Linked DNA regions of Homo sapiens: region 2 is linked to region 1. Evidence: fine-mapped expression QTL. A gene starts in region 1. The other region holds a variant in brackets. All regions are shown on one strand. Distances are between the middles of the regions. Region 1 holds the start of KDM3A (lysine demethylase 3A). Region 2 overlaps RNF103-CHMP3 (RNF103-CHMP3 readthrough).

The links.
Region 2: its variant is fine-mapped to the expression of KDM3A in whole blood (INTERVAL, PIP 0.92).

What each region holds. Positions count from the first base shown.
Region 1 is chr2:86,437,514-86,449,669 of GRCh38, forward strand. It overlaps KDM3A (lysine demethylase 3A), which reads left to right and starts at 3,858. Exons shown (of 26, transcript NM_018433.6): 1 at 3,858-3,931; 2 at 4,505-4,720. The coding sequence starts at 4,535. RefSeq lists enhancers at 2,927-3,470, 3,292-3,491, 3,572-3,651, 4,642-4,701 and silencers at 3,782-4,171, 4,392-4,441.
Region 2 is chr2:86,610,638-86,618,637 of GRCh38, forward strand. All of the region lies in intron 3 of RNF103-CHMP3 (RNF103-CHMP3 readthrough), which reads right to left. RNF103 (ring finger protein 103) reads right to left here. Exons shown (of 4, transcript NM_005667.4): 3 at 1,522-1,637. It overlaps CHMP3-AS1 (CHMP3 and RNF103 antisense RNA 1), which reads left to right. Exons shown (of 6, transcript NR_183901.1): 6 at 6,539-6,812. Among named protein-coding and RNA genes, the nearest start is that of RNF103, 9.2 kb to the right of the region's middle. RefSeq lists a silencer at 6,655-6,704. The variant A/C (reference allele first, on the strand shown) is at 4,119.

The DNA.
Region 1 (12,156 bases):
AGAAATATGTCGATCACAAACTAATTTTTAATATACACTGGGTCTGTTTCTTTGTTCTCTTCATTACTTATATATTTATGTCTTGATGTTTTTATTTGTTGTTTTGTTAGAGGAGAAATGACATATTTATCAGATCATATCAAGAGACAGAATTTTTCATCTTCTTTATACATGTCAGCAAAGTCTAATTTTCTTCATATAGGTTGTGTTCATTTCATGTATTAATTTTTAGGGATTACATGTTTTATTATCATTAATGGTTTTTATTTTTCTACTGTATGTTCTAATTGATGCTTGCTAAGGAATAGGAATTCTTTTGATTTTCGTTTGTTGATCTTTTATTGCATTATCTTTTTGATTCTTGTTTTAATTCTAATAATTTGTCACTGATGCTTTTGATTTATCTACAAATGTTTTGGGCTTTTTCTTCCATTCCAATGTTTACATTGTATTATTTTTCTTGTCTTATTACATTAGCAATTAACCTCTATTGTAACTTGAATAGTAATGACAGCATTGGGCATCCTTATCTTGCTCCTGACTTTATTGGGAATTTTTCTAAAATTTCACAATTAAGTACAATGTTTAAGTATATTTCTGGTAGATATCCTTTATAGAGTTATAAAATTTTCTTTTCTTGATAGTTTGCTAAGAGTTTTTATAATGAATGAAAATGAAGTATATAAAATTTTTGGTGTATCTATTGAGATAATCATATGTATTTTCTCCTTTAATTTGTTAATGTAGCAGATTCCATTAATGAGAGTTAAAAATTAAATTTTAAAAGTAACATGTGAGTACATTTACCTTATAAAATGAGAGAATTACAGGGAGTGGGGAGATTGGGTAGATGTTGGTCAAAGGACACAAAATTTCAGTTAGACAGGAGGAATAAGTTCAAATGATCTAATGTACATCATGGTGACTACAGTTAATGACAATATATTGTATATTTGAAAATTGCTAAGAGTGGATTTTAAGTGTTCTCACCACACAAAAAAAGATGAGTATGTGAGGGAATGCATATGTAAAATAATTTGATATAGCCATTCCACAATGTATATCTATACCAAAACATCATATTGTACACCATATAGTTTTACCTGTCAATTAAAAATAAGGTGATAAAAATGTAAATACAAAAAAAGTGTATTTATAAAAAATTAGAATTACAAATAATATGTGTTGTCTTTGACTAATACCCCTAATTCTAGTGTGCACCCCCTAATACCAGTAACCATTACTGTAAGTTTTAATAACCATATTTAACAGAACATATATACTGTTGTTTTTGTATGTGTATTTTGAAATAGTACCAAATGCAAATTTCTTTTTCATTCATAATGTATTTTGGTAACTATTTTTATTGGAACATCTAGCTGCTTTGACTCCTTTACAAATCCTCTACAACTTTCCAATATATGCATTACATTCCATTTATTGTTAATAATTTTATTTATTCCTTCTCCAACTGGAGTACACTTAGGTTATTTGCAGATGTTTTTTCGTTCATATGTGTGTGGGTGTTTTTCTGTGGTACGTAACTTATATTCCTAGGTTTTTAGAAAGTTTAAAAACATTTTTTAAAAATTATGGGTGGTATTGAATATAAGTGTACACTTATAATCTTCTTAGTTTTCTATGTAATTTAAAAATACTCTTAAGATCACAAGTGTTCAATGTGACTGCATGCTCTATTTAGCCCTAAGGTGAATATACGATTTTTCTTTTTTAACCTGTCATGGTGAATTTTAGTAATTTTCTAATCTTGAAGTATCTTTGCATTCATATAACACTAATTAATCATATCAATTACCTAAAAAAAATGCTGCTGGATTTAATTTGCTGGTATTTTATAAAAGAATTTCCCATCTATGTTCCTAAGTATAATTGAACCATAGTTTTTCTTTCTTATACTCGCCCAGTTCAGAATTTGTGAAACGGTTTTATAACTTTTATAAAATGCATTGGATATCTTTCCATCTTTTCTAAGCTCTGAAATAATGAATTCAACATAGAAAGTATATGTTCCTTCAGGTTCAATAGAATTTTTCCCTTGAGTTGTTTTTCAAATTAATATTTAATTACATAATCTAAGTTCTCCATATCTTCCCTTATATTTTACATTTGAGTTGCATATTTCTGAGATATTTATGTCTTCTACTCTGAAAACAAATTGTCAAATTTGTAAAATTTCTCATCGTTCATAGCGTCACCTTAGGATAGGCCATGTTTTTAGATTCATAACAGTTCAGGAGACCATACTGTCTTCATGGACTTTATCTTTAATATAAAATCCTTTCTCTTTTGATACTTTTAATTGTATTAATATTGCTATACTGCTTTCATTTGGCTACCATTTGATTAAATATTTTAGCCCAGTATTTTCAAGCTTCCTGTTTTGTAAGCATTTGCTTATGGTCAATTTATAGCTGGATTGTCCTTTTATTCCCAACTGTCTTTTAAAACTTGTGAGTGAAATTAACCCATTTACATTTATTGTAAATACTGATGTTTGGACTTTTCACATGAAAAACATTTTTACCATATGTTCTGGTTTCTTTTGCTTATCTCGTTCCCATTTCTGCCTTCTTTCAGCTGGATAGGTTTTTTCTTCTCATTTAGCAGCCCCCTTCCTTTAAATGGTCTACAGATTATAAATCCAATTTAATTCTTGTTACTAACTTTAAAAACTTAAAATCACATTCAGAATATGTATATTGAAAATCAACATCCAGAGTTGATTTGCATCTATAATCCCTTATATGTTTCCAAACATTCTCTGATTATACGTTTCCACGCTTGTAAAATGGGAGGCATGAGTTCTTCTTAAGGATTAAATGTGATGTAATGTCAAACACTAGCCTTTATGAACATATCTTCAATTTCTTCATTCCATTTCTTTTTCATTCAATCAAAATACTTCAGGTCCAGAGCACACAATCACCTCTAAACTCCTTTGTCCTTCAAAGTCACCTTCTCTTTCATCTCTTCCATCATTCATTATGGCCTTCAACTACTTTAAATTTCTTTGTAAGTATCTGAATACCTTCTCAATCCCACTTTGGAGAAAAAAAAATCTCATTATACATTGTATTTAAAGGTCTCTTTTGCTCTAAATTTAATGAACGTCATTATCCAGTAACTCCACGCCTTTCTTCATTTATCCTTCAAAATGGCGGACTTTAGACGTTCCACGATCAGTACCACGTGCGCCTGCGCCTCCCGCAGCCATTTCGCCCAGCAGCCTAAGCTCGGCGAGGCGCCTGCGCACGAGCCTCCAGAGCACTATCGCTCCTCCCTCTAGCTGAGTACGCCTGAAACCGCACGTTCTCTTCCCTGCCCTCCCCCGCTAACCCTGCACCGCCCTCACCCTTTCCTGTGAGATTCTTCCGCCAAGTGGAAGGCTCATCTTCGGTCGACAGCCTACGCGGTTGAAGAACAATCCAGTAGGCACTTATAGCTCAGGGTCTCGCCATTCAGTCTTATCTATGCGCCACAGCAATTTTCCTCCGGGCCCCAAAGTTGATAACCGATTTCGCGGGACTTTTTTTTTGCATACTGTGAGGCAACAAATGGAAAGAATAGGCCTATGGCGGAGGGATCACTCGCTTATTCTCTGTGTACTTTAACCTAATGGGGGTCGCCCGGGAGTCGGAAGGGGGAGGGGAAAGGGAGGAGGCAGCCAAGGAATTGTTTTTTTCTCTGGCCCCGCCCTCGCCCGGGGGGCCAATGGTGATGATCTGTTTCCCCCGGAGCCTCGCCCAGCTCCTGTGTTTCAGCCAATGAGCGGCGGAAGCGGCTCCGAGGGGGGCGGGTCCGGGAGGCTGTGCGTGTCTTGTGAGAGCTCTTGAACCAAGTCAGCGCTGGAGTCGGCTAGGCGGCTGGAAACGGCGGCTGCCGCCGGTGACTCAGGGAGGCGGGAGGCGGGGTAAGAGCGCCGCGGCCTCGGCTGCGGGGAGAGGGGAGAGAAAGGTGAAAGCGCCGAGCGCGCGGCCCCGTCGCCCGTTGGCAGCGGCGCAGGCCCGGGAGACGGGCGCCCGGGGTTCGGGGCCGGGGAGCTGGGCGCCGGGGCGGGGCGGCGGGGCAAGTGCGGAATCGCGGGCTCGCCCACCCTCCCCCGTGGGGCCGCCCGGGGCGGGGACCCAGCCGCCCGGGACCGGCTCTCTGCACCAGGGGCCTTTTCTTTTCGGGGCTGGGGGCTGAGCACTTTCAAATCCACTCGAGCCGCAGATAATTTTTCCCTCACTCCCTCTGCGGTTGCGTTTGAGCTGTTAGAAAAGCCAAACTTGGGAGAGCGAGGGTCACGCGGCGCTGGGGCCCGGGTGTGTGGCGGGGGAGGGCGGCGGGGGGCGGGAGGGCGCAGGAGGGGGGCTCGGTGCGGGTCCGCCCGGGGCCGCGTCCTCGCGCGGGTTCGGCGCCCTCCGCCCGCCCTCCCTGCTGTCTCCGCCCGGCCCCCTCCCACCGGCCGCCCCCGTCGCATTTTGTTTTTGTGTTTTTGCAGGGAGGAGCTCTTCCTGCAGGCGTGGAAACCATGGTGCTCACGCTCGGAGAAAGTTGGCCGGTATTGGTGGGGAGGAGGTTTCTCAGTCTGTCCGCAGCCGACGGCAGCGATGGCAGCCACGACAGCTGGGACGTGGAGCGCGTCGCCGAGTGGCCCTGGCTCTCCGGGACCATTCGAGCTGTTTCCCACACCGACGTTACCAAGAAGGATCTGAAGGTACAGGCGGCTCCGGGCCTCTGCCACCGGACGTTTCGCAGTTACCGTGGTAACGCGACCATCGGTTCCCTCCTTCCGTTTTCTGAAAACGGAGACCAGAAAGTTGGCATATGATCTGAAGGTGCAGGAAGCTAGATCTTGAAAGTCTTTGGAATGGTTGTATAGAGCCGAGTTGTGTTTGGCCCACAGCTCCTGGCTGCCTGGCTTTAATAATGGGCTTAGGGTTGTTCAGACACGCTTCATTAATGCCGGTGCTGTGTCCCACCAGGACTGTCTCATCTTTACTGCAGAGGAGGAGGAGTATTTTTGTTAGCGTTAGGTAGGGCCTGTAAGTGACGTTTGGAGTCATTAAGAATTGAAGGTTAGTGCTTGGAAGTACTTTCAGCTGGTTTTGTTTGTTTGTTCCTGTTAATTTATTCACTCAACTTTTAAAAAAACTTTCAGACTTGTTAAAAATGAAGTGAGTGTAGAGGGAGGAGCTTAAGTTCTGTTTGGCGTATTAGGATGGGTGTTTGTCCGTATATGGTGGGTCAGGGCAGGAGTGGGTTCCTGGTTGTCTGTGATGAGCCGGTGGGTGGGTGTGGGATATGACCATATATGGAGGGATGGGGTGGAGCTGTCCCATATATGGCATATTGGAGGACTGGCTTAGAAATACTGCACTTGGACGCATGAGGGGAGGGAGAGAATTGGGAACAAGTGCGGCCAGTGATTTTTTTTTAAATCATTATGACACTCAGAACCTTTTTCTGTTAGATCTTTTCAAAGACAGATGAATTCTGATTGTGCTCCCTAATAGAAGTATTGATGTGAAAGGATTGTCTGGGAACAAGCAGTGAGGAAGCCATTGTACCAACAAAGACTCCTTTGTGCGAAAATAACTGAAAAAAGGTTCCTAACAAAGACTCCAAAGTGGTGATAACTTGAAGGAAGCTTGTCAGAACAGAAGATATTTCCACCCTGCCTAGTAGATGTGTTTCAGAATCTTCACTTGGCCATCATCTTTGCTTTTTCTTAAACTATGTTCAAATAAAGGCAGCAAGTTTTAGCATTGGCAGTTGATTATATGTTGATTTCTGAAACACTGTTCATTTGAACACTTTCAGGGTGACAGTGTATGCCCAAACTGGTATTTATCTGCAAAGAGTTGTAGGAAAGGGGTATGCTGTTAGGCATGTTTTAAAGCTTCAGTGTTGTGCCTTGTCTCTTGTTGAAAAGGAGGAGTGACCGAAGAGCATTTAACCATGTGGCAAGCACTTCACAACTATGATCTCGTTTAATCCTTACAGCAGTTCTTGGGGGTAGGTACTAATATTGCCCCCATTTTATGGATGAAACTACTGTGCCTGAGGGACGTTAAGCATCTTGCCAAGGACACATACGTAGGAATTGACATAGCCTGTATTCTGTCAAACCCAGGAAGTTTTACTCCAGAAGCTGCCCTCTTAACCATCAGGCCAGTGATCAAGAGCTATGCCACAGCAGAGCTCCTGTCATAGGCTGTGAGGTTTGGTTTTTTCCTGCATTCGGCTCATTCTCCTGCCAAATCAGGTTTTGATGTTTATAGAGATAATATATTGTGGTGCAAGAATGGCCAACCTTTTTGCTTTGGGCTTATAACCTTTCTGTAAGCTGGGCTTTGTGTACTAGATTTCAGTCGTGCTTGTTGTGGTTTATTTCGCCTGCCAAATAAAATTTTCTCTAGTGCATTTGTTTTTATGTGATTTGAATGGAAACAAGATTTTATTTAAACTTTCCAGTCTTTAGTTCTTTGGCAGATGTTGAGAGACTAGGCGTTCCCTTCCCTTCTGTAGCAGCAATTGAGGACCTGTTGGGTTAGGCAGGCAATCTAGGAGGAACTTCACATGTATATATTTTTTAAATCTCCTCCCTCCGCCCCCATCCTTTGAGGAGGTGGTGATATCTTCATTTTCAGAATGAGGAAATAGATTTAGGAAAAGGAATCTTGTCCAGATTTGCATAATTAGCTGCGGAGGGAGGCTGCGAATCCAGATTGGGCCCAGTGTCTTCTCCACTGCACTTTGGTGCCTAACCTGAAGACAACTGGGAATTCATGTCAAAAACAATTTTGGCTAGGTTGGATTTTTGCCTTACTTGTACACATCACAACTCAACCCTCATGTAAGATGCCAATCTTCTGTCTCTTTTCTAGTCATGATTTATCACTGCATTCCTTAGTTGAGTAGCAGATGTTAAGTTTGGGGGCCATGTTGCATTAAAAAAAACCAGGATTTTATTTTACCTTGATTTTAGAGTTGGGGGGTCTTGTTGCCCAGGCTGGTCTGGAACTCCTGGGCTCAAAACACCAAAACCAATTTGTGCTTGGTGAGATGGAGGCAGGAACCAAGTAACTAAGACCATGCTTACACTAGGGTTTAGGGGCATTAAGTTTTTGGGGGGTGAGATGGGGGTGGGGCGAGGGGCTGAGATGAATGTCAATAAATAACATTCAAGTAATATGTAACCATTCTTCTATTATTAGGACAAATACAAGTCTGTCTAGACTGGCTTGTTTAGATAGTTATGGATGATATTAATGAGGCCAAGGCTTGTTAACTTTGTTTCACCTAGAGAGACTTTATAACAAAACCACTTACTTAGATGACAAAAAGAGAATATGTCTAGTAGTTGGTTACAGAGAAGTTAAGGTGAAGACATAATAACAGTGGATAACTATGATTAAATGGTTACATCAGGATTTAGCAAAGAAAAAATAATCATTAAATGGATATTATGTGGCGATTACTTCATTTAATCCTCACAAATATCCTAGATGGTAAACTACATTTTTAGTGTCAAAAACTGAGGCTTAAAGAAGTTAAATAACTTGAGTTTGTCTCCAGACCTTAAACACTAGGCTTTAATATTCAGGTAGAGCGAGGTTAGAGCATTTTATTTTGCTAGCCTCTATATCCCTAGCACCGAGAACACTGCTTGGCATGTAGTGTGTGCTCAGCTATTTGAATGGATAAGTGAAGGAATCATAAAATTATTACCTCTCCTATGGAGAAACAGTTTAGAAAGAATCTACTGATGAGGCAGTAGCATTCTCTTCATCTGGAATAACAACAGATCTTAATTAGATGTGGCTATAAAGACTGCTTTAATCTTATTTTTATCCTGCTCTTTCTACTTGAGTATGAAATGAGTTGCTTCCTAGCTGATTTTGTTCACATAATTATGCGTGGTGGGAATGCCCTGCTTCCTTAACTTGTCCTTTTTTCTTTGAAGCCTACCTTTTTCTTGAGTCTAATGCCCTGCTTCCTTAACTTGTCCTTTTTTCTTTGAAGCCTACCTGTTTCTTGCGTCTAATGCCCCTTCTTAGTCCTTACAGGTGTCCTTAGCAGGCAATTAGTCCTTGCCATCTGTATGTACCATTTCCTGCTATTGTCAGCAATTTGGTGCCTTGACTAATGCCTAGCCTTTCATTTTTGCACACCATTGAAACTTTAATGTTAGTGCAATCTGCTGCCAGTCAAGCCATGTAAAATGAAAAAACTTCTAGCACGGTATAAAAACTGTTTACCCCTTTTAATTGAATGCTGGACCTTGGGATCTTCGACAAACATTTAGGCATAAGAAGACATAAGTGGAAGCACAAGGAATTAATTTCTTTGTGGAGTAGTGAATTAAGTGGTATCCTGCATTGTAGTGCAAGGCATAAAATAGACATGTAATTAAAAATTTGTCTAAAAACCATATCATTCTGTGCTCCTGCTTTTAAACTTGGAAACATTTTCATTGGTGTTTCTGATGGCCTTTATAATCATATAGTCAGGTGAGATGAGAGTATGGTAAGAGTGGGAGATTTTGATATTAGTTTATTAGATACAATATTAATTCATATATCAGAAAGATTTTCTGTTGGGGAAACATTGGCTTGAAAAATCTGAAATATCGAGCATTTGGTCAAGGTGTTTCATAGGTACTAATAAGGTACACATTTGCAAAATACCCATTAAAAGAAGAGCAGATTTCACAATTATAGGTAGTGAATCATAGTTGACTCTGGCCTTTGAAGCCACACAGTGTAAGTCACATCTCATTGTGGGCCAAAGGAGCATGGGTGAAATAACACAATTTAGAATAGAAACTAGCTGCATCTGTCAGCTTGCATGAGCTTGGTCAAGTCACTTTAGTTCTTACTGAATTTAAATGTCTTTTTAGGCCAGGCGCAGTGGCTCATGTCTGTAATCCCAATAATTTGGTAGGCCAAGACGGGTGGATCATCTGGTCAGGAGGTCAGGAGTTCAAGACCAACCTGGCCAACATGGTGAAACCCAGTCTCTACTAAAAATGCAAAAATTAGCCAGGTGTGGGTGGCACTCACCTGTAATCCCAGCTACTTGGGAGTCTGAGGCACGAGAATCACCTGCATCTGGGAGGCAGAGGATGCAGTGAGCTGAGATCGCGCCACTACACTCCAGCTTGGGCAACAGATTGAGACTCTGTCTCAAAAAATAAAATAAGTGTTTTTTTGTAGAAATGTCCACAGAAGAAGCTTTTTTGGGGGATGTCATTAAGTGTAAAACCTCAAACCTTAAGGCACAAATGAAAGATGCTTTGTTTTTTCTGGAAATGGGGTCTCACTCTGTCACCCAGGCTGAAGTGCAGTGGCACAATCATAGCTGACTGCAGCCTCAACTTCCTTGGCTCAAGCAATTCTCCCACCTCAGCCTCCTGAATATCTAGGACCACAGGTGGGCACCACCACTCCTGGTTAATTTTTGTATTTTTTGTAGAGACGAAGTTTCCCCACGTTGCCTTGGCTGGTTTAGAACTCCTGGACTCGAGTGATCCTCCTGTCTTGGCCTCCCAAAGTGCCGGGATTACAGGTGTGAGTCACCATGCCTGACTGACATATATGGTTTTGATAGGAAACTTTTGAACAATATTGAAGAAAGCTCACAACTTGTTGGTTTTCTTATATATTTTTTAAAGTCATCTTTTTCCAAACCAAAATAATGTGATTTTTGGCTAATACAGCATAATATTTGAAAGTCATAAACTTAAATTGTTTTTAAGGAGGTAAACTTTTTTTTTTTTTTTTCAAATCACTCAAAAATTGGGATATGGAAAGGGGCCCTGTCTGTCTTTTGGTTTAGGGTTATCTTAAGCTTTAGATAGTGATCTGGTAAGAACTGTGATGTTGCTTAAGTTTTGGGAAACCACTTAAGATCTTAATCCTTCTTAATTCTGCACTTTTTTTTTTTTTTGCTGAATAGATATTAGATAATTGTGTTGAAGATCCTCTTTCCCCTGCTCCTAACTTAATAAGTGATACCTTGATAAGATTTGAATTAACCATGGAGGTATTAAAACTACCTAGTTGTCTTGCCAGACACTTTACATACACTGTCTTTTAAAATATGCCTAACTATGCAATGAGAGGTGTCACTTTTTTCATTTTGAAAAACATTGAGAGAACTTAGATTTTCTAAGTGAGGGTTCTTAACCTGGGGTGCAAGTTAGTTGGTTTCCTTTGTAATCATAAGTATTTTATTTTATACATGTAAAATCATTCTAAGAGAGATTCAGTGTAGCTGGGAATTCAAGGTCTCTGAATCTGGATCTAGAATTTGTGTGTGCTCATTCCTCTTATACCACATTGCTGATAAATAAGAAAACTGTCTACCTAAAGCTTGGTTGGGTTTGAGGTTGATGTGAATATGGAGCAGAAAGACTAGCCAATTTAGGGGAGATGTCAGAGCATATGGATTCTGTGGCTAGGAAACAGAAAGGAAGATGGGCAGTCTCTGCCCACCTTTATGAAAGACCATTTGGTTGATTACAGTGATAGAAAACATATAACCAGGGAGAAACGTATGTGGGCCTTGCCACGTGGGTGTTCACATTTATTCTGATTTGGAAAGTATTCAGTAATAACTGCAAAGTTAAAAGCCTAAAATACCAAGAAGATATGTAGTTTCCTAGGTAAAGTCGCCTGGGAGGTTAGGGATGCATGTTTTGTTGGCTGAGAAGGGTAGGATAGATCTTAGATTTCATTTATTTTTATCCTGTAGACTGGAGAAGGTTTGGGATTGGGGCTAATGTGGGAATTTAGTGCCTTCTAAGCAGGTGAGAGAAACAAGATAGGAACCCAATGCAGAGGGAAATTTATTCATTAATCTATGCTAACAAGTATTTGAGTACCAATTAGATTCCATATACTAGTGATATACAGTTGTAAGCAAAAGCAGAGACAGACTTTGACCTATTAGAATTTAATTGTCAATCAGTTAACAAATAAATAATGCAAAGTGTGGATAAGAGCTAAGACGGAAAAGTACAAAACTTTGAGTACAGTTAGTATGGGGACCTCTCTTGGGAGAGAGAGGCACTTTGGTAAGGGAAGGTTTGTTTGAGGAAAGGATATATGAATTGTGCTCTGATAGATGAAGTTAACTAGTTAATAAACTGAAGGTTGAAAAGGGATGTATGAGTGATGTCTGTAAAATGATGAACAGATTTGATAGATGATAGATGTATTAACTAATTCCTGGAAACCAAAATGAGAGACCTCTTTAGTAAGAGGAGGAATTTTAAATCAAATAAAAACAGTGATTTTTACACTGAATATCGAGGGAGTTTATTGTCATTGGTAGAATACAAAAAGCATTGAAGAGGACCTAGAGTAAGTTAAGGGGTAGCATATTTATAATAGGTTAAGGAAGCTGGAGTGTTTCAATGCTTTTATATGACTTTGAGTTTTATGGTTTTGTAAACAATTCCTACTCATAGATCACTCCCAGAAGCCCACTTTTAGACTGAATTTTCTTAATGTCTTTAAATATGTATACAGGTTTTAAGAGTTGTAGCCTTAGGGTTAAAAGTATTATGCAGGTCAGAAGCAGAAAACATTACAATTACTTGGAAAACAATATTTCAAGGTAGTTTAACTTTCATATAAGAAGCTAGAGATAGTTCTGAAAAACTTTGTGGTCATTTTGTTAATCACTCGTTTCTATGTTATCCAACAAGTAGTTTAAGACTCCAAATTCTGTGGTAAATTTCCTAGCTTATTCAACTGAAAGGGATATTGAAGATGTGCTGTATATTAGGCCTTGTGCTAAATTTACTCATTCCAGAGGAATTCAAAAGGAGGTGGTGGATTGTGGTGATGGGGGGTCATCTTAAGCCCACTTATATTGTCAATAGACAATTACAGTGCAGTTTTATTAAGTACATCTTTTGAGTTTCAAATTTTTGTCTTGCAATTCCAAAAGCTCAGATGTCTAATTAATGTATGTAAACGCCTGATAAGTAGGGGTTGTTTGGTTTCTGGGCTTCCCAGGGGTTTACTTTAGGGACACAGACTGGCCCAAAAAGCCTTGACTTCTGCATCCCGAAGTGAGTTGGGAGCCAAAGCCTGGTTCATGTGTGATTATGTATTGTGGGCTGTGACAGGAAGTGAG
Region 2 (8,000 bases), 170 kb after region 1:
ATAATGTTTGAAATGTATTATTTAGTTCCACTGATTTTTAAAAAATACATTGGGTATTTTAAAAGAAAATAGTGATATGAATACTGACTTTTGGCATAACTAAAAAAATCAAAATATCAGCATTATCATTTGTTCTAGTATTGTAAAAATCAGTGAGGAAGAAAAAGACCTTTCACTTTGACTCTATTTGGAAATGATGGAATCAGATCAAATCCTAAGTCTTTGGTAAATGACGAATGGAGATCAGAATGATTTCCTTTTCAAAAGAACATTAAGACTTAAGCTATCTCAGACATTTCAACAAAAGACATTGGGATGTGACTAAGATTCTGTGGTTACCAGCCTGGGCAACATAGCAAGACTCCATCTCTACAAAAAAAAAAAAAAAATTAGCCAGGTGTGGTGATGCATGCATGTAGTCCCAGCTACTTGGAATGCTGAGGTGGGAAGATCACTTGAGCCCATCCATCAGCTGGAGGTTGCAGTGAGCTATGATCACACCACTGCACTACAGCCTGAGTCACAGAGCCAAATCCTGTCTCAAAAAAAAAAAAAATCAGAAAAAAAGACTTTGTGGTGAAGATGAGCATGACAGCTTTGCAGGTAGATAAGGAGACTAAATGTGAGTTAAGAGATACAGGAACTTCCCTCCTATTCCCAACTCTTAGAGGAACTCTACCATCCATCTCACCCTATATTACTAGTGGGCAAAACAAGGGTTCTAAGCAGAAGAGAAGTAAATGTAAGGCTAAGGAAAGGAGGTATAGTAATGGTTTAGGAGAGTTTTCTACAATCAATGAATGAGACTAAGTTATAACTTGGTAGCAAGAGAAATGGAAAAAAAGGCATTTCAAAGAAGAAATAATGGAATAATAAAACAAGAAATAATGTGACAGACTGAATACTGGAAATGATGACAAAAAAACAAAACATAAACAAAAACACCTCTGAGGATTCTTATTTGAGAAAATGGGGGGGAAAACCGGCGAAGGACAGAAAAAAGAAAGGTAGAAGGATACATGGATGATTAAAGAAAAAGAGGATGAATCTGATTTCAGATACTAGGTTTCAGGGAAAAGAATATATCTAGGGATAGTTGCAGAGCAAATGGAAATAAGCAAAGAAATGCAAACTAGAGGTCAGAATGATAGAAGATTTATATCAGCACAGAGGTGTCACCTAAAGCCATGAATGTGCTGAGATCTCTTTGGAAAAGAAAGGTGAAATGAAAAGGACTAAAGACACAATCTTAAGAGATATCTTCAATAGAAAAAACACAGAAGAGCCAGAGAAAGGGACGGGGAGAGAGAGGGAGATAGAGGAGACAGAGAGAGATCTTAGAGTGAAAGTCATTAGCTGCCAGTTTATCAAAAACCATTAATCAAGCACCTATGTAACTAAGAGTGTGCTACACATTATAATAAGCTTTCAGTTCAAGCAGGCTTCTAGTATCATTGCCCTTTTTAAATAAGAAAGATCCTGGTCAGGACTCAAATTCTAAGAATTGCCTAATCAACTTACCTGGGATCACTGGAACAGTTAAATGTGCCTGTACGTATTCCAAATCTTGACACCTTTTTAACCATTTTCTCCCAGTGAATTTTGCCCACCAAGGGACTTCTGTCATTTGCTATGACCTATTCCCAAAAATAGAGAAAAAGAAACTTGAATTACCTAAAATGGAGTCAAGCCAACCGTTTACATCAACAATATAATTTCACTTAAAAAAAAAGATATTCTGTTCCCAGTTCTTGTTTACTGTATCATCACATTATCATTACAATTCTTATAGAAGGAGCAACTATCCAATAGGAAAAAGACTTGAAACACTGAAACGTAAATTAAACTCTCCCACACTCTGTGGCAGTTACAAAGAGAGGGAGGGAGTCAAAACTGTATTAAAAGGCTAGCCACATTCTCCACCATGTGGCCTCTTCTCTCTAATTAAGTTACACAGGAAGAAAATGGCCCTTGGAATAATTTCTCTTTGCTCTGAAAAGAAAATTTTAAACAATAATCCAAATAGAGCTTACTAAAAATTATCACATGTAGGTTCAACAAGTTCAAATTTCACTTTTTAAAAAGTATAATTATGGAGCCAAGAGTCAAACACATGTTTTCTATTAAAGGGTGCTTTGACTAAATCAATAAATACTACTAGTTCTATGGCTTTTTGCTTAATCATGAACGGCTCTAACATACAATAAGAATTACCATTCTTCTTATTCATTCTTTAATGTAATGAATTTTACATTATTGAACTTGTACTTCAAATTTGCAAGAGCTTTCAAACACAATTAGGATTAGGAAAAGCAAAAGATTCTTAAGAAAAGAAAAAGAGGCCAGGTGTGGTGGCTCACGCCTGTAATCCCAACATGTTGGGAGGCCGAGGCAGATGCATCACTTGAGTCGAAGAGTTCAAGACCAGCCTGGCCAACATGGCAAAACCCCGTCTCTACTAGAAATACAAAAATTAGCCAGGCATGGTGGCAGGCACCTATAGTCCCAGCTGCTCAGAAGGCTGAAGCATGAGAATCACTTGAACCTGTGAGGTGGAGGTTGCAGTGAGTAGAGGTTGCACCACTGCAATCCAGCCTGGGTGACAGAGCAAGACCTTCAAAATATGTCAAGACTTCTCTTATAAGTGTCAGCCTTTCTAATCATTACCACCTTTTCCCTTTATCTCCTAATCTTCCTGCCTTTAATGAAGGCAGAATTTCAATGCAGATACCAGTAAAAACCAAAAAACATTAAAAACAAGACCATAAAAATAACTAAATGGGAAGTTAAAGGAAAGCCAAAAATGTCTAAAGTCATCATGAAACCATCTGTTTAAGTCCAGGGTATATAGGCCAAGTTTATTTTCATAAATGTTATATTTCTGATACTATACAATTCAAAATTACAACATAATACTCTGGGGGCCTCTACTCTTTCTGGGAGGAAGGACCATTTTCACACTCACAAAGCCTCCAGGAAGTGAAGTTGCAGGTGGGTGTGTAAAATGAGTGCTGACAGTCAACTCCTTGGGAGACGCAAGAGGTGGTGCAGCCACCTCATCTGTGGCCTCTGTGCTAGAACGTCTAACAAATGTCAGAGGGCAGCAGAAGAAACAGCACATTGTGATGACAAGTGACTTGAAGTTCACTTTATGTGCCAAATAACCTCTGTGACACTCCACTACCATCCTCATACTTACCGAGACACACGTGCATACATAACATCTTATCACATAAGTTTGAAGCTTAATGAATACATATACACAATTTAGGGCATTAAGCAAATGGTTTTGATATTACATTTTTTTTTAAGGGACAGGGTCTCACTCTGTTCCCCAGGCTGAAGTGCAATGGCTCAATCATGGCTCACTGCAGCCTCAAATACCTGGCCTCAGGGTTCCTTCTGCCTCGGCCTCCCAAGTGTTGGAATTACAGGCATGAACCACTGCACCCAACCATGGTTTTGATAGTACTTTTTAATGAAAATAAGTGGTCTTATTGAGGCAGATACAATTTATTCAAATACTCAGACAGCTGAAGTAACCAGGAAGAAGGCAATCTGGGGACATGCACTTAATAGGTGAAAGCTCTTTTGAAGGATGCTCACACGTTTCCCTACCCAGTAAGTCCCTAGCTTTACATTTTTCTCTGGTCCAAAAGTACTTTATAAGTTTTACCTAGAAGGCCAGGTACAGTGGCTCATGCCTTTAATCCCAGCACTTTTGGAGGCTGAGGCTGGTGGATCATTTGAGGTCAGGAGTTCAAGACCAGCCTGGCCAACATGGCGAAACCCCGCCTCTATTAAAAAAAACAAAAATTTGCCGGGCGTGGTGGTGCACACCTGTAATCCTAGCTACTTGGGAGGCTGAGGCAGCAGAATCGCTTGAACCTGGGAAGCAGAGGTTGCAGTGAGCCGAGATTATGCCACTGCACTCCAGCCTGGGTAACAGAGCAAGACTCCATCTCAAAAAAAAGAGAGAAAAAAAAGTTGTACCTAGAAAATTAGGAAGATCAAGCAAAGCAGGCGCCTATTGCCTCTTGTTCTTTATTTTATTTTATTTTTATTGCTACCACTCAAGAGTCAATCTGGTAGTTCTTTTGGTCAAATAATCAAAGACA[A/C]GTTTAACTTATTTTTCAGATTCCTTAGGAAGATTAAGAAGTATCTGTGCAATCATACTACCATACTCTCTACTCTTTGCCCTCTTTTAAAAATAACTCACTTTTCAGGCATTATCCCATTTCTTGATCAAGGTTGCAAATAACCCAAACATTTCAGGTCTGTGTGCAGAATGACACTGCTCCAAGGAGTTTAGAGGTTGCCTCGCCAGTGTAAATATTTAGTTCCTAAGTCTGGAGGCATCTTTCAGTGAAGATCTTGTTCACTGCACAGGTATCTTTGAGACATGTGATAAGAGCTCCAATGTTAGGAAAAGAAGGAGGAATGAGAGGGGTTCTTCCCAGGTACCTCTTGGTTATAGCAGAGATAGTAGAAGTGAGTGAAAAGAGTTGGGAACATACCTGGGGCAGGTACAAGACAATGTTCAATGCCAGGGCCTTATTTATTCAGCAACGTGTTCTAGCATTTGGTTTTGAAGAGTTTAAGGATCCCTGACTGACAGAGCTACACAAAAATGAAAAATCTTGTAGGCATTGCATGAAAGCATTTTATATTACTTTATAGTTATATTTATGCAATTAAAAATGTGTCCAATGTCCTACATAGTTATATAATTCAACTGAAGGTTTAGCATAAATTAAATTTGGTGGAGTTTAAATTAACCAACCACTATAAAAATGCTAATATTTTCACAAAATAACTCATCTGGTTGAGTCACACAGCACAACAAAATATTCTCAGCCTAATATATATATATACATATGCCTTATATATATATATATATAATATATATACACACACACACTATGTCATACCAGTAAGAGTCCCCAATTTATAGCTCATATCCTAGAAGGATGCATGATGATTCTGAGTGGCATTCATATGGCTGGTCTCATTAAAAGGGGAGACATTTTCCTCAGCAGCTCAGGAAGGAACACTGTATGTGGGGAACATTTTTAAAGACTACAAAAAAACTGGACAAAGTACAGCTTGAGTTCCAGGTGTGGAACAGACCTGGCAATACAGGCTAGAAGTGAAGCAATCTTTCCATTCCCTTTCCCAGGGTATCTGCCTCTGGCATCCCCACACTTGCTCACCACTGTAGTCCCTGCAGCTAATACAGTGCCCAACTCATATGGGTGCTCAATAAGTATTTATGTCAAACCAAACAATTTCAGCTTCTTACAGTTTAATAACTCATTCTTCTAGTTCTGATTACACAGAGTCTCTAAAGGAAACTCTTAAGCTTTTGATTTCTGTTATAATCAAAGTCCCTTCCCCAGCAACCTGTACCAAGATGTTTTCTGGACAAACAGTGGCATAAATGGTACCCTGCTAAGCAACTGCATATTAATGTTCTTGACCTCAGTCAGACATAAAGATGTTTAATTCAGTGCATTTTAAAATGCCCATTATTTAGAGGTGAGGTTTATTACTGATCAAACCATGTGGCATACCCCTTTTAATACTGTTAATCTCCATACAACGACATCCAGGTTTAGTTAAGTAACATAACTCCCTGGAACAATGAGAGTATTGTGCTATGATATTTTCTGCATTCTCAGTATTTCATTATAATAGGGAGTCTCTACTTTCAAAATCATAAGCCAACCTAGTATATACATGCAAACTATATAAAACCATTAAGAGTAAGGACAAGTGATTGACAAAAAACAGTGGTCTTTTAATTTTTTTGTATTCTTACATAGAATTTATAAAATTTTTTACCAATACAAAATATAAGATAAAGTGGCTTGCTATGTGCTTCACCTCCATAGCAGTATCAAGAAAGAAATACGTAATTTAGAATCTCCTCGAACAAAACTTTTGTCTAGGAGCAAAGATAAACAAGTTTAAAATCAGCTATTAACTCTTGTCAGCCAAACAGGAAATATATTGATGTAATACTTCAGTAAATATTGACCCAAAGCTTTATTTTAAATCATATGATGCTTCTCACTGCTACCTCAATTCCAGTGACTTTAAATTCCATATGATGTAACACAGCCAGTAGGGAACAAATATGTCCTTCTTTGAACTATGACAAAAGTCAAAACGGAGAAACAGAAATGTTAGGAGGAGGATAAATCCATAAAACCCATAAATTATGCTAACTTCTCCACTTCAGAAGCCTATCCACTGTGCCATCTGCCTCTCTGACCAAGGGTCTTTTGAAAGAAAAGTAACCATCTTCTATTTGTAATGCTATGAAGACTGGGGCCAAAGAATCCACAAAACTGTTAAATGAATAGCTAATGAAAGATATGAGCTTGGGTTAGGGACAAAGGAGAAAAACAATGTTAGGAATAACTTAGAAAAAAGAGCACTTGGTTCTACATGTATTTCATAGTGTGTCATTGGTAAAGATGTCATATGTATGTTGCTACCTTGAAAACTAAAATAAATTCTGTTCACATTACAGAGACTATACGTAACATGGACCTGGAAAAGCTTAAAAATATGAAGAGGATTGAACTGGCTGCCATCTGTGCATCTTCATTTATGAAAACACTCCTCATAGACTTAAAACAAATGACAGAGAACAAATTAGTCAGCTTCTTCTAAAATACAGTGGTCTCCCCTTACCCTCAGTTTCACTTTCTGCAGTCAACTGCAGTCCGAAAATACTACATACAATTAGATATTCGGAGAGAGAGACACCACATTTACATAAATGTTATTTCAGTATACTGTTATAATTGTTCTATTTTTATTAGTTGTTGTTGTTACTGTGCCTAACTTACACATTAAACTTTATCACAGGTATGTATGTATAGGAAAAAACATAGACTATATAGGATTTGGTACTATCCACGGTTTCAGGCATCCACTGGGGGTCTTGGAACGCATCCCCCTCAGATAAGGGGGGACTACTGTAAACAGAAAATAACAACAATTCAAATTGTTAAAAACAATTCTTGAAAGTTATCCTTTACAATAGATTAATATATATGATCTGAGCTGAAAGAATGGCAAGCAATGGAGACAATATTTCTCTTCTGTTTCTAGTAGATATTTTCAATTTTAAGCATAGTTTTAAAAAGTACAACCCTCTTTTAAGGGCTTAAACCAAGGTGGCTGTGCTGATTGGCTTAGCTGGCTAGTTCACAGTGCCAAGGACAGGGTTTCAATCTCATTCTTCTCAGTTGTCCTGCCAGAGATTGTTCTTTCAGACCAGGCCAGCCATTTGACAGATGTAAGCCACTGGCCTCAAGGAACACAAGCCAGACAGTGGTGGTCAATGCAAACCTTGAGCATCACTGGAAAAATTAAGCAGGTGTCCTACTGCATTATTTCCATACATAGAAAAACCACAGAAATACATTCTATTTTTAAAGAGTTGTTTTTCAACTATTAATACCTATAAGGTTTAAAAATATTTTCAGAGAAAAAAAATTTAGCAACTAGAATTTATAATGCTACCATTTACTATCATTATTTGTCCTTCACTTCATTTGTCACCTTACCAGAGAATTCCTTGCCACTCTCATCTCCTTAATCTGCTTATTTTTCTTCTTACTACTTTCCACTAACTGATGTTATATTAAATATTTATTTATTTGGTGTCTGCCTCTCCCAACTAGAATGTGAGCTGCCTGACAGAGCAAGGCCTTAGCTTGGTGTGTGTTTCTGGTATATCTTCAGGGCCCAGAACAGGGCCTGGCACACCCACAACTGAATAAACTTTTGATGAATTCTGTCACATATTTATTACAGGAGCTTAATTCATGGATATCTTTAACAGGACATCAAAAACAGTAGATCATTTACAAGCCAAGAACATACTGCTAACTATTGAACCAGAATGTATTTGTTGTCTATAGGCAGCAGCCTATATAGCAAAAGAACTCAAGACTTTTGACATAGCCCTTCCAAGTTTCAAA